Regions from separate parts of the Homo sapiens genome. Here all the other regions are linked to region 3. Evidence: fine-mapped expression QTL. A gene starts in region 3. Each other region holds a variant in brackets. All regions are shown on one strand. Distances are from middle to middle.

The links. PIP is the estimated chance that this variant, and not a neighbour inherited with it, causes the effect. A credible set is the group of variants that fine-mapping cannot tell apart.
Region 1: its variant is the best candidate, but not a certain one, in a credible set for the expression of LRIG1 in monocytes after LPS (Quach 2016, PIP 0.64).
Region 2: its variant is the best candidate, but not a certain one, in a credible set for the expression of LRIG1 in monocytes after Pam3CSK4 (Quach 2016, PIP 0.69).

The regions. Positions count from the first base shown.
Region 1 is chr3:66,468,296-66,471,052 of GRCh38, forward strand. All of the region lies in intron 1 of LRIG1 (leucine rich repeats and immunoglobulin like domains 1), which reads right to left. Among named protein-coding and RNA genes, the nearest start is that of LRIG1, 31 kb to the right of the region's middle. The variant T/C (reference allele first, on the strand shown) is at 1,095.
Region 2 is chr3:66,473,461-66,476,217 of GRCh38, forward strand. The region is part of intron 1 of LRIG1 (leucine rich repeats and immunoglobulin like domains 1); the gene reads right to left. Among named protein-coding and RNA genes, the nearest start is that of LRIG1, 26 kb to the right of the region's middle. The variant T/C (reference allele first, on the strand shown) is at 1,418.
Region 3 is chr3:66,499,849-66,502,605 of GRCh38, forward strand. LRIG1 (leucine rich repeats and immunoglobulin like domains 1) reads right to left here and starts at 1,174. Exons shown (of 19, transcript NM_015541.3): 1 at 342-1,174. The coding sequence starts at 559. RefSeq lists enhancers at 270-770, 771-1,271 and silencers at 374-583, 604-683, 724-863, 884-1,543.

The DNA.
Region 1 (2,757 bases), 32 kb before region 3:
GCTCACAGACCACTGACGAACACAGACAAAATCTCTCACTGTGAAGAGGAGCGCAACCCATGGCTCCATTTTTCAACATTAACAGAATAATTCAAAGTGGAAGGAATTGGTCCTAAATCCGTGACAAGCATTCCCTGAAGAATGAGGTTTTCATACTTGGTTTGGTTTCCAGGCTAGCCTATTTCCCATTACTCAATTCTGTCTGGACTCCTGAGCGCCACAGTATTTTGCATATTTTAAGCTTTCAGATGTTTGCTAAACTGCATTAATACAGCTGGAAAGTAAGTGTGAGGCAATCCAACAACCCAACTTCTGAGCACCAGTGGGCACCCAGCTCTGGCCTGGGAGCCGTGGGCTCTGGCGATTCATCTCTTTCTCAACCTCAGAACGTGCACTGTCAGCCACTCGTTAAAAAATTGCCTGCTTGGGACTCACCAGAAAAAGGTGGAAAAAGGTGATTCGTCCTTTCAAAATTTCAGCGGGTGCAAATAAGGAAGAACATGCAACAATGTTTAAGTTATTTAATCCTTTAAGCTTTTAAGACTGTTTCTGCTGCATTTTTACTTTCTGAGGAATTACATAGTACACATCAAGCTCCAATGAAATCACCACATTATGTTCCCATGTTGTAAGGTTTTATAAAAGAGAATAAGACTTCGTTCAAATCCCAGAATATTAGATGTTCTTACCTTTTTTTGTATTGTGATGCTTCCCCTTGTTAACCAAAAACCACAACTGAACAAGCGGATAATGCACATTAAAGGCTTATATTAAGATGACAAAATTGTATCTTGAACTGGAATCATTCCTCTAGTATCCTATCCAAGGATCTCCACTCAGGAGAAGGTTCTGTACTTGCTGCTACCTCTCTTCAGTAAGCTAAGCAGCCACATATTCCCTATGGCAAAAGAACATATTCTGCAAATAATCAAATGAAAAAAATCACTCAGATCTCAACATGATACAAATAGCTCATTTTGTAAGCTTTTGGGCAGTTGTATCTCACAAAGTCAGTAATGAGTCACCAGTTATTTCCATTTCTGAAAATTTTACATAGACCATTATCTATGCAAATAAGGGAAACCTACAGTGAC[T/C]CAAAATAGGAGATACTATATACATACAGCTATATATGGACCCAGACTCATTGCCTATTTTTACTCCTTAAAAATCAGCTATAATAATCAGTGTGGGCCTCTGAAGTCTAACGCCCGTGACGTTAACTGAGAGAAGAAACTCATGCCTACCTCTGTGATCCCATAAGGTCTTACATGTGCTTCTCGGCCTTACTAGTTCACACATGTCATCCTGGTCTGTAGCTAATTTGAGTACAAGTCTACATCTTTTCCCTCTAGCACCCAACAAATGTCAAATTTGACAAATATTTATTGTCTACAAGGTATACTGCACTGTGATAAACTGATAACAAATTAGGATAAGATCTAGTCTGTGACTTGAAGTGGTTTACAACCCACTGGTCAAGTTAAGACTCCTGGCCGGGTGTGGTGGTTCACGCCTATAAATCTCAGCACTTTCGGAGGCTAAAGTCGGGGAATCACTTTAGGCCTGGAATTTGAGACCAGCCTGGGCAACATAGTGAGACCCTGTCCCTACCAAAAAAAAAAAAAAAAAAAGAATACTGACCAAATAACACAGCCAAAGGCTCTGACACTTGCAAGCATTCTGTAATGGTAGATCAGTAGCTACAAATTGGTAGTTTGTGGGTACAAAGCTGGGCTGCAGGGAAACTTGCTTGTTTCTGACTGAACAGTGTTGGTAGAAACCTAAAGTTTTCACCAAAAACTAAAGTTTCAGCTTTTCTTGAAAATAATCGGAGGGCCAGCATTCCTAACAGAAACAATCAACTACATGCATTTACCAAGCATTCCAATGACCACAGACCTCACCACTCCTTATTGTCTCACCCATGCCCTCTTTATTCACCGGCAGTATCTTCCCAGCCCGAGATCTGAGTTTGTCATCCCTAGCATGGATAACATGAATGAAGGCCAGATGGCGTCCAGAGCAGGAAAGATCAGCTGTAATGAGAAACGTTTATTGAAAATGCAAGATTTCAGCTAAGCCTAGAAGAAGAGCATGTTTTTTTGAAGAGGAGTCCTGGGAAACGAGGCCAGAAAAGTAAAATAAGGAATGGAGGGCATGGAGTAAAATAAGCAAACAAAAAGGCCAAGAAGTCAGGACCTCCTAGAAAGGAAAGGGCAAGACACAAATGGTTTTACAGCAAAGTTGAGAAGAATAGCCCCATGCTGCCAGACCCACAACCCACCAGGCGGTTAAGTCAAGGGTTATATAAACCTTAGCAAACCCCAGTGCCAGGTCCCTCACGAACATTAATCTATGGGGCCATTAAAGTTGATTTCCATAAGAACAGAGTATCGCCTTGTTCATTTACTTAAAAGTTCTGAACTAGATAATCAAGAGGCCCAATTTGTTTTCTCACCATCACTGAAGGCAGTTAGCATTTGCTTTCTATACTACCCCTTAAAATGGGAGATTCTAGGATCTTTCCTACCAAAAATCTTAGTTTGGCCAAAAAGAAACAAAATAATTAGCTATAATGGGTTTTGTTTTGTTTTACTTTAAGCAGTCTCATCTTTAGTGCAGTTTAGTACTGAGGAAAGCCCACAAATTTCCCATAATAGTCTCTTGTTAATATGGTATGTGCATCATTAACCCCTAAAGATTAATTAATTTAATTAAGAAGAGGCGCTCCAACACACCAGCTCTGCAGTTGGTGGG
Region 2 (2,757 bases), 26 kb before region 3:
GTGCAAAGCCCAAGCATCCAAAATCTATAAAGCTCATATAAAAATCCATGCTTACTTGCATTTGCCACAATGCTCGGCGTTACAAATGGATTAAGTACAAGGTTCCTTCCAATATTATTTTCTAGGTTTATCCTCTCTTTCTCAGCTGCCTCAAAACAATGCAGATCATACAAATACAGACAGCAGATCCCTGGTATTAAATCAGCCAAATTAGAAAAGCGAATTTACCCACAACTTTTCAAGAATACATCCGCTGTATTACAGGGAGGCACGCGACTATCTCTAGCTAAGTATTTTAAAGAAAACACACAGTTTTAAAAGGTCAGCCGTCTGGCCCACAGTGAAGTCACTGACTTTAATAGCTAGCTTATCGACTTGGGATCTCGTCCTGTTCACTTTTTCCACTGGGCTTCTTAAAGTTTACGTGTGTCATGAAATGCTTAGCTAAAGCCAAAAGGCTAAGTTTTTCTTTCTGCAGTACTAAGACGTCGTGAAACACTCTAAATTTAAAAGACCATCTACCACATCATTTTCCCTGTTTAGAGGCGTGGAGCAGTGATGATTTCCCTGGTTCTGGTTGTTGAAATGGCTGAGAAGACACGAAGTCAAGATTCAAAAACCACAAAGTATTTCAGCATGCATTATTGTACACAGACTATGCTGCTATTAAAACATGGAACTTCCTTTTCACTGAAATTACAAGCAGAAAATAGCAGATGCTGCATGCGACCTCCATCCTTGAACATACTAAAATTTTACTATGTCAAATGGAAAACTGGCTGTGAAAATGACTAGGCCACAACACACTTTTATTTCTTTTTTTTAAATCATTCGCCAAAGTCCCTAAAAACAATGCCTCACCTCTTCCACAAGGTCCATCTACGTTCTTTTTTTTTTTTTTTGAAATGGAGTTTCACTCTTGCCACACAGGCTGGAGTGCAATGGTGTGATCTCAGCTCACTGCAAACCCTGCCTCCCTGGTTCAAGTGATGCTCCTATCTCAGCCTCCTGAATAGCTGGGATTACAGGCGCCCGCCACTGCACCCAGCTAATTCTTGTATTTTTAGTAGAAACGGGGTTTCACCACATTGGCCAGGCTGGTCTTGAACTCCTGACCTCAGGTGATCCGCCCGCCTCGGCCTCCCAAAGTGCTGGGATTACAGGTGTCAGCCACAGCACCCGGCCCCATCTACATTCAATGTGGCTGGGTGCATCACCCCACCACACGCCTGTCCCCTCCCCAACCATCCCACTCCCATTTGCAGGTCCAGGTCATTTACTCACAAAGGATGTGTCTTACAGGGTGGACCCTAGCGGCAAATTCCACTTGCTAAACTGTATCTTAACCAAATAATGAATACTGGTACCTGTGGAATATGAGTTCTTTCTTTTAAAGCCAATCACCAGCAAAGGTGGT[T/C]AAGAGCCTTGTCAAAAGTCAATTATCAGTAAACTCTTTTTGGAGTTTCAGTTACAGGCAGAAATCTAAGAAACACCATGTGTACTTCTAGGTACTCCACAGCCTCTCTGTGCACTAGAGAGAGACAAGAGCCATTCAATTCACAGAGCATCTTCACATCCAAACAGAAAATCCAAGCCCACTGGTCATACCAAATTGAGACATCCACAAGATCAGCTACATTGAGGCAGCTGCCCTATGAAAACAGCTAGGACTTAGCCTAACACTTGCTATATAACGAACACACAATCTCCCAGGTTCTACCAATCACTCCTTTGACAAATCGAGGTTTGTCAAAGTCTCTGCCTAGCCTGTCCTAAATCAAGTGACTCCAACATGACTTCCCTCCAATAAACATGCTATCATTGGTAGGGAGGTAGAAGGGTGGAGAATGACTTGCGTCTGCATACTGCACACTAACAAAATTAAGTGGGTTTTGTTCTATGCCCTGAGATATAGGGAACCAAACAAAAGGTGGTGGTTGGGGGTGAGAGCAGTTTGCTGGAAAAGGCAGGCACTCAGCTATCAGATGCAACCTGTACTCCAGCTAAGTCTCCCCAAACTGGCTTTCCTTTCTCCTTACTCCCCACCACACTCAGTCCTGAAATATTATCAAAGTAAATAAAAGCTGTTCCAATCCCAGGTCTAGTCCGCATGGCTACACAAACATGACTCTGCGAAACTGTGCTGACAACTGCGTTTACTTGTGGCAAAGTGAACCAGGATCAATAAGCCAAAGTGGCTTTAGATTTGGTTAGGTTTAAGCTCACATAAGCACAGGGAGAAAACCATCCACTCTCAAAGAACTAGTGCAGAAAGCACCTGCACAAACTCGTCAGGATGGTTTATAAGGTCACAAGCACCTGAGAAAAGATCGTTTATTCCTAGGGGCATGAGACAAATGGTAGGCCTGCCCGTCACACTACTAGTGTCAATATTTATCTAAGGCCTGGGTATTCACGATGGTATAAACCAGGCACCTTTTCAATTCAGTTATTCACGTAATTCGCCACTACAAAGCCCCAAAACAGAGATTCTTTACAGCTTGATTTCTTTTCTTCCATTTCCATACACAGGGGGCTGGCTGCAGGACCCATGGTCTATGTCAGCAATAATCCCTGCAGCCTGGGAATAAAGCGTACAATGTATTTCAGAACTACCTATATCAAATGGCATTGCAACTGAGGACAATGAAGAGGTGGGGAAGGGAGACAGAGCACCTGCTTTCTTCCTTCCCATGGCAAGCATGTTTTCCTCACTCGAAATGCGCAGAGATTAAACCCTGTAGTAAAGTAAATGAA
Region 3 (2,757 bases):
AAACACACTCAGCTCCAGACTCCCACTCACTCACCCCCAGATGGCCCGCACGACGCGTGCTGGCTAACCCCCAAATCTCTACGACCCACGCTCGCTCGTCTCCAGACCCCACGAGGCACGCTCTTCTTCTCCAGGCTCTCTCGCACGCCTACTCCCCCGGACCTCCACGCAGAATCTCCCTTCCGCCACTCCAACCTGACAGTCTTCCAACACGCACAAGCACGCACAACTCCACACACACAACCCAGTCCGCACCCCCTCCCTGAGTACGAACCCCCGCCGCTCCATCCCCAAGTGACAGAGCCCCGGGGCGCAGAGAGGGCGGAAAGGGCGGCACTCACAGGCTCCGCGTCCAGGAGGGCAGGTCCCCGGGCAACGCAGCCAGCCCGCGCCCACCGCAGTCCAGCGAGTCCCCAGCGCAAGTGCAGGCGGCCGCGCAGGGCGCCCGCGGGCCGGCCGCGGCGGTCACCGGCTCCAGCCGAAGCAAAAGCAGCCAGAGAAGGAGAAGGCAAGGCGAGCGGCGCGGGGCCCCGAGCCCTCCCCGGACCGGCCGCGCCATCTTGTCTGGAGCGCGCTGCGAACTCCGGGCGCGGGGACTGTGAGGACCCGAACGGCCGCAGACGCGGGCGGGCCCGCGGGGCGCTCCGCTCGGCTCTAGACTCCGCACCGGGGCATGGCCCCCGCCCCAAGTTCTCTCTGCGGCCGCGGCTCCGGCACTCAGCGTGCCCCCGGTGCCCGGGCCGCTCCGGAGCACCCGGCGGGGGCCGCAAACCCCGCGCCCATCCGGGCCGGCCGGCCCGCCCGCGCTAGCTGCGAACTCCGCCGATTCGGGCAAGGTGTACCCAGCCTGCGCTCTTCGTCCGCCCGGGGCACGCCGAGTGCCGCTACCGACACCGGCCGAGGGCAGTGCTGCCGCTGCGCCTGGAAGACAGGCGTTCAGCCCCGCAGCCCGAGCTCGGTGCCGGCAGGCATCTTCCTCTGGGCTCGGAGCGCAAAGCCGTAGACCTCGGGCTGGACGGCGCGGCCGGCCCCGCGCTGGGAGGCCCCAGTGCGCCTCGCTGTCCCCACGCCGCGGCCAGAGAGCGCGCGCGCGCGCGCAGCCTCGGGTTCCGCACGGCTCCTCCGCGCAGCAAGAGTCCCGCCGACCTCGCAGCCGAACAATCAGCCGCTTGCTGTTCGCCTCCCCGCGGCCCAGCCCCGGCCGGTCCCCCAAGCCCCGCCCCCGGCCGCTCGCCCGCACACACCCCCTAGGCTCCGCGCTCCGCGGCCGCCTGCTGGCCCACGTTGGATGCTTTGCAACAGCGCCCCGCCACGCCTCCCCGCCTGCTGCTCATTGGCTGCCGGAGTCCACCGTGGCCAGCCTCGAGGGCCATTGGAGCGCTCGCTGTGATCCCGCCCCTCCCGCTTCACCGGCTACCCCGCCCCCACACTCTTTTCCCACCCAAGGTGTGAAGGGCGGGAGACTGGGAGGAGAAAGGGAGGGACGGCCCCCGCCTCTTAAAGGAGACACGCAGGTTGTTGTTGGAGAACGGGAACGCGGGCTGGGGAAAGGAGGCGTGAAGATACGCCCTCTGCGTCAAGAAGGGGAGAGAAAGTTAAGAGGGTAAAACGCCCCCGTTTTGGGGCTGTCTGGCCCCAAGGCTTTTTACGTCCTCCTCAGGCTGCAAGCAGGACTGCAGATTAGAAGCAAACCCGCGTCCGTTTTCCAGGTTCCTTCCAAAAGCGAAGACACAGGTTTAAAACTTAACACATTTCTTCCTGACTGGGACATCCTTGGTTATTTCATTAGGCGTGGTCCCCTTCCTCCTCGAGCAGCCTGGAGCATCTGCTCCTGACTTGTTCTTCACGTCCTAAATCCAGCAATATGTCCTTGATTACTAAAATGAATGTGTGCTGCAGAAACCTAGTCTCAAAGGTGCACCCTCGGCCAGGAGTGGTGGCTCACGCCTGTAATCCCAGCAGTTTGGCAGGCCAAGGCGGGCGGATCACCTGAGGTCAGGAATTCGAGACCAGCCTGGCCAACATGGTAAAACCCCGTCTGTACTAAAAATGAAAAATAAAAAAATTAGCCAGGTGTGGTGGTGCACACCTGTAATACCAGCTACGGGAGGCTGGGACAGGAGAGCTGCTTGAACCCCGGAGGCGGAGGCTGCAATGAGCAGAGACTTGTCACTGAATTGTCACTGAATTCCAGCCTGGGTGACAGAGCGAAACTCCGTCTCAAAAAAAAAAAAAAGTGCACTCTCCTTCCCAGCTAGTGAGTTGAAGGGTACTTCTAGAAATGCTGCAGCCTTTGATAAAGGGGTTGCTTTGTTGTTGTCATTGGGTTTTTGTTTTAATCAGAGTCTTTTTAAGATAATTTTCAAGAAGCCATTGTGTATTCGTAAGAGACAGAGTTAAAGGAGAAATAATAGTTAACAAAGCTTCTAACTTTTGCTCTTAAAGATCAGACCATAGTAGTAGTGTGTTACGATAGTACGTGGTAACATTAAGCAGACATACACACATTGAGAAAAAAAGAAAAAGATTACCACTGTAACATATAGCTGCCCTCTGGGCGTTTTGGTTTGCTAGTGTCTCATATCCCTTCCCAAGAGTATGCAAATTACTAACATAACTGCGCACATTGTCAGGAAGATTAAGCAGGTCAAGTCTGTTGAAAAACATTTGCTCCAGAACATTAAATCTGAGTTGTGTTTTATGGAAGTGGGGTGGGGTGGGAGGTAAAGAGGAGAAGTTGAACCTTAGGGAAAAAAG